Regions from separate parts of the Homo sapiens genome. Here region 2 is linked to region 1. The links come from fine-mapping of genetic effects on gene expression. A gene starts in region 1. The other region holds a variant in brackets. All regions are shown on one strand. Distances are between the middles of the regions.

What was found. PIP is the estimated chance that this variant, and not a neighbour inherited with it, causes the effect. A credible set is the group of variants that fine-mapping cannot tell apart.
Region 2: its variant is the best candidate, but not a certain one, in a credible set for the expression of DDX52 in lymphoblastoid cells (GTEx, PIP 0.56).

What each region holds. Positions count from the first base shown.
Region 1 is chr17:37,642,008-37,644,925 of GRCh38, reverse strand. DDX52 (DExD-box helicase 52) reads left to right here and starts at 1,480. Exons shown (of 15, transcript NM_007010.5): 1 at 1,480-1,592; 2 at 2,618-2,816. The coding sequence starts at 1,506. It overlaps LOC105371756 (a long non-coding RNA gene), which reads right to left and starts at 1,988. Exons shown (of 2, transcript NR_188617.1): 1 at 1,390-1,988.
Region 2 is chr17:37,585,119-37,588,036 of GRCh38, reverse strand. It overlaps SYNRG (synergin gamma), which reads left to right. Exons shown (of 22, transcript NM_007247.6): 4 at 1,488-1,618; 5 at 2,607-2,712. Among named protein-coding and RNA genes, the nearest start is that of SYNRG, 23 kb to the left of the region's middle. The variant A/T (reference allele first, on the strand shown) is at 1,331.

The DNA.
Region 1 (2,918 bases):
TTAAATGCTTATATGGTACAACTCCTTTGTATCATTTATATGTTGATGACTTCCAAATTAATTTCTCTAGCCCTAATTTTTGTTCCTGAGCTTCAGATTCAGAACCAACTACCTACTTGGATGTCTCCACTTAAAGTCAACTAGGTAGGCATCTTAACACGTCCAAAACATAACAATTGATTCCATCCTCCGTATCTCACTTGTACCAGAAAGCCCTTCTTCTCTCAGGCTTTCTTAGCTCAGTAAATGGCATGCCATCTACTCAGCCAAAAAACTAGGAGTGATCTTTGATTCCTCCCTTTCTCTCACCTCTGCATAAAATCCGTCAGGTACGTTTAGCTCTACCTCCAAAATACATGCCAGATCTAATCCATTTATCTCTCTCAGCACAGATACCAACCTAGACAAGCCATGATCATCATTCTACTTTGACTAACCTGTTTCCACTCTTAGCTTTTCTATGGTCCATTCTCCAAATAGCCAGTGTAATCCTTTATGAAACATCCACGCATTCATTCACCAAAGTGCACAGAAACTGGGGATACATAACGAAGCAAAGTATATCCCTGTGCTCAGGGACTTACATTCCAGAAGAGGGAGAGGCAATAAGCAGTAAATAATTTCGTACAGATGTAATAAATATAAAAAATTAAATGTGATAAACTAAATCATGTTCTTCTCTCCATAAAAATTTTCAAATAGTTTCCCAAGGTGGAAGTCCAAATTCCTTACTATGACCTTGTTACAAGATTCTGTGAGATCTGGCTTCTGTTTGTCCCTCCAACCTTATCTGTACTACTCTATCAGACTGCAACTTGGCTCTAGTCGCACCGGCATTCTTTCTATTCCCTCAAGGTTCCAATTTTTTTCCCTTCAGCCACGTGTTTCCCCTATCTGGAATGCTGTTCCCAGATCTTGGACAGGTTGCTTCCTCTTAGCTCAAGTTTTCACTTCAACAGAGTGAATTTCACTAAGTCAGCTCCCTCATCATTTTCTCTATCAATTACACCTTTTTGTTTTATAGCACTTATTACTTTACAGAGATTTTGCTTATTTATTTGTTAACAATATCTGTTGTCCCTACTAAAATGTAAGCTTCGTAAGAAGAGGAATCTTAAGATGTTGTTTACTATAGTATCCCTCAAAGTCTAGAACAGTGCCCAACATAAGAGGATACTGATAAATATTTTTTAAAAGAATTTACACACGCCTGTAGTCCCAGCAGTTTGGGAGACCGAGATGGGAGGATCACTTGAGCCCAGGAGTTCGAGGCTGCGATTGCGCCACTGCGCTCCAGCCTGGGCGACAGAGAGAGACCTTGTTTCAAAAAAAAAAAAAAAAGATAAATAATGACGGAGTACACGATAATAAAATAGCCTCGTTTCTCACCCAGCCAGGCTCCGCCTACAGGAGCCAATTATGCTCACGCCCTCTTCCGACGCTGCCCGGGGCCTGGGAAGTAGTCTGCGCAGGCGCCGTAGAACTGTGGCGCTTTCTGGGTAAAGATGGACGTCCACGATCTCTTTCGCCGGCTCGGCGCGGGGGCCAAATTCGACACGAGACGCTTCTCGGCAGACGCAGCTCGATTCCAGGTACTGTGCCCAAGGGACCGAGGGCCGAGTAACTGAGAAGGAGCAGGAGCCCGGGAATGAACCCGCTGCTGGGGGAGGCCGGCGCACTTGGACACCCGTGGCCTGGCTCTCGCCACCCTTGGGGTATTTTGCTTCCTTTTGTGTTCGGCTTGCCTGCACGGCTGCTCGGTTCAAGCCTTTTGAATAAGCTCTTTAACTATCCTGTTGTAGACCTAGTTGGGCCTGGCACGGAAACCCTCTTTCCTCCCTCTTATTCAAAGCAAAGTTGGAATCCTCCTTTCAAAAGGAACTTTTTCTCCGAACCTAGAGGAAAGGAATTTCGAAAACAGAAACAACCAAAGATGGAGAAAACAGATTCTCTTACTATAGTCTCCCCAAGTTTGGCTTGGCATGCGTATAGTTGTACTGGGCGTGATTCTTTTTATTGCTTCAACCCCATGGCTTAAGTAACCAATGAGAAGAGCGATTAAGAAATGGGGGCTCTTACCTAGAGAAGTAGTGAGTGATACATCGGGGGAGGTCAATTGGGGCCCAATTCTGGAAAATCTTGAATGTCTACTTTGTTGTTTGGATGTGTATATGCGTGTGACATGTGTTTCTTCTTTCTCTAACTGGTGAGTATGAACTCTGGAGCCAGATTATCTGGGTCTAAATGCTAAGTCTGCCAGTTACTCATTTTTAGACCTACCTCAAGTTACTTAATTTCCGAATGCCTTGGTTTTCTCATTCGTAATACTGCTATTTACCTTATAGAGTTGTAAATGTGAAGCAATTTAATATGTATAAACATGCTTAGAAATCTGCTTGACATTTAGTAAGCATATATGTGTTCATTGCTAATATTAATTTGTTACTATTATGAGGTCAGAGAAGGTCTCTTCAGATTCCATTTGTCCAGACACCTGTTAGCTCGACAGATACTTGGTGAAAGGGTAGAAAAGATGAGGAGTCATTGAACAGTCTTGCTTGAATGAAAGCAATGGTATTCTGTCAGTAGGTTTCATTTTACATTTTTTGGGTTTTAGATAGGAAAAAGGAAATATGACTTTGATTCTTCGGAGGTGCTTCAGGGACTGGACTTTTTTGGAAACAAGAAGTCTGTCCCAGGTGTGTGTGGAGCATCACAAACACATCAGAAGCCCCAAAATGGAGAGAAAAAAGAAGAGAGCCTAACTGAAAGGAAGAGGGAGCAGAGCAAGAAAAAAAGGAAGACGATGACTTCAGGTTAGTGTTTGATTTCTGTCATGTTTTTTCTCTTTAATTTTTTTCAGTTATAAAAATAATACAGGCTTATGGCTACAAGTCAGACAATAAGGTCATTTGTCA
Region 2 (2,918 bases), 57 kb after region 1:
ATGATTAATCATGAGAAAAGTGGCAAAATTAACAGGTGGAACCTACAAAATAAGCTCACGGAAAAAAAATAAATTAACAGGTGGGAGATATTAATGAGATAGGAGAATTACTGATCTAGATGAGCTAGAAGGATAGGAGGTGGTGGTCAAGTGTCGGGATGCCTAACATCCAGATTTTGGACATGACACAGTCTTTGGTGCAGATAGATCATGGGTATTACCATGGAATGGGAAGCTGGAATTGTATGTTGGGCATGATTGTGATGAGGAGGCTAAAGACCTGGAAGACCACACAGTGTTAGGTGAGTTACCCATGTGGGTGATTGTTGACGTTACCAAGAGCAGTTTGGGGGTAGAATGGAAGACAGCAATGTCTGAAGTGTTCAACTGAAGAGTGAGGAAGTTGAGGGTCAGTAGATGACATGAACAAGATCGGATAGTAGATGATGAAGTCTGTTAGTGAGAAATTAAAATGTATTCAGGTTTTTGAAGGTAGAGAGAAGAGAAAAGGTTTAGAAGAAGCAAGGAGGAATATTCCCCACTTACAGGAAATATAGAAGAGAAGTAGCAGTCTCCAAATGAGAGTGTTTCACGGACAGACTTTAGTTAGGGACAGAAGAGGAACTTTTCAGGGAGAAGGTTGAGTAGTAGAAGAGTTTTCACTCATTAAAAATTAGCCATTTAATTATTGTCATTGTCATCATTCTTAATATTAGATTTTGAGCCAGGTGCCATCGAGGGCACACGCTTATAGCCCTAGCTACTCTGGGGCTGAGGCGGGAGGATCTCTTGAGCCCAAGAGTTGGAGGCTGCAGTGAGTTGTGATTGCGCCTTTGCTCTCCAGCCTGGGTGACACAACGAGACCCTGTCTCTAAAAACATAATATTATTAAATTTTGTGATTAGCTATTGTGTTATTATTATTTCTGGACACTTTAACAAACTTTATAATATTATGTAATTTTTTATTGAATATGTGTCATTTTCTATAAAAGTTTGACTATTAGGCCTTTGATAACATCAAAATATTCATTATCCTCTCATATATATTGGAAAATCAGATTTAATTTCATTTGTGGTATGTTTACCATATGCCAGGCTCTTACCTATTATTGCAAATATGAAAATATATAAGATATAATGCCTCTTCTCAAAGAGGATTAGTGAGCTCACAAGAATATAACTTGTGGGCATATAGTTCCATAACACACCAATCAGAGTATTAACAGTGGTCACCTCTGGGACAGTGAAGGGAATGGAGGGGTTAGATATTAAGGGGAGCCTTCCATTTTTAGCATCTTTTAATATAATATATTTCTTTGTATATTTGC[A/T]TCTTTTATTTATTTGCATCTTTGCATCTTTTAATCCAATATATTTCTATTTTTTACAAATAAGAGTATTAAGATAGAATTTATGGAAGTCACATTTTTGTGTGTGATAATTAAAGGGATAAATTGTGTTTTTTAAGCCTTTGTCTGTTTCTTCTAGGCAGGAATACCAATGGGACCAATGCCAGCAGCGGGAATGCCTTACCTAGGACAAGCACCCTTCCTGGGCATGCGTCCTCCAGGCCCACAGTACACTCCAGACATGCAGAAGCAGTTTGCCGAAGAGCAGCAGTAAGAGATCACCAGAATTAAAGGATAACAAAGATACATTATAGCATCTATCTTAAGAATTGTCTAATGATCTCTAGTGCAGATTTGAAACTAAAACAGTCAAAAGTTGTCTTTAAAACTCTTAAGGCCTGGCCCAGTGGTTCATGCCTATAATCCCAGCACTTTGGAAGGCTGGGGTGGGCAGATTGCTTGAGCCCAGGAGTTCGAGACCAGCCTGAGCAACATGGTAAAACCCTGTCTCTACAAAAAATACAAAATATTAGCCAGGCTTGGTGGCTCATGCTTGTAGTCCCAGCTGCTCAGGAGGCTGAGGTGGGAGGATCACCTGGGCCCCGAGGTTGAGGCTGCAGTCAGCCGTGATCATGCCACGGTACTCCAGCTTCGGTAACAGAGTGAGACCCTGTTTAAAAACAAAAACAAAAAAGCCTCTTTAAACTACCATTATTATAAGTTTAGAGTCAAAAAGGACCTTAGAGATCCTGTAATTCAACCCTCTTGTTTTATATCTAGTGAAAGTGAAGTCCAGGAAAATGAAACAACTTGTCAGTCCAGGTTACACAGTTACCAGCAAAGCCTGGACCCAAAGGCAGGCTTCCTGATTCCCAAATCATTACTCTTTCTGCTGTATGACACTGCCTTCCCAAGCAGGTTCTTTTTTAATATGCAGAGCAAAGTGTGTTCTTATGTTTGTCTGCCTGTTTTTCGAGAATACTTTTATATGCAAAAGCTTGTTTCCTCCTCTTGCAAATTAGATGAGAAATAAATTCATATACATAATTTAGGTAAATCATTCTTTAGACTCATGTCAAATATTTTGGAATTAATATAGTGAGGAAACAGGATTGTCGTAAGAAAACTAGATATTTAGCAATGAAATTTACACTTCTGGAAGTGCAACATGATATTGCTGAAACTGTTAGAAATCTGAATATAAAACACAGTGTATAATCCCGGGAGCTGGTTCTTTATTAGATCATTTTTCCTTCAGGAAACGATTTGAACAGCAGCAAAAACTCTTAGAAGAAGAAAGAAAAAGACGCCAGTTTGAAGAGCAGAAGCAAAAGCTCAGACTTTTGAGCAGTGTGAAACCCAAGGTAGTATTTCAATACTTCTCTTCACCCAGAACATACACACCCTGAATGTGCCTCTTCCCACTCATTGAGTGGATTTCGTCACTGGGGCACCAGCCCAAGCTGAGGCTGTGATTGATTCTTCTCATTTTGGTTTACCTAATTACTAATGTGAAGGGTTTTTCATTTTCTGTAAAGATACACTGCTGTCAATGAGAATAGGCTATCAG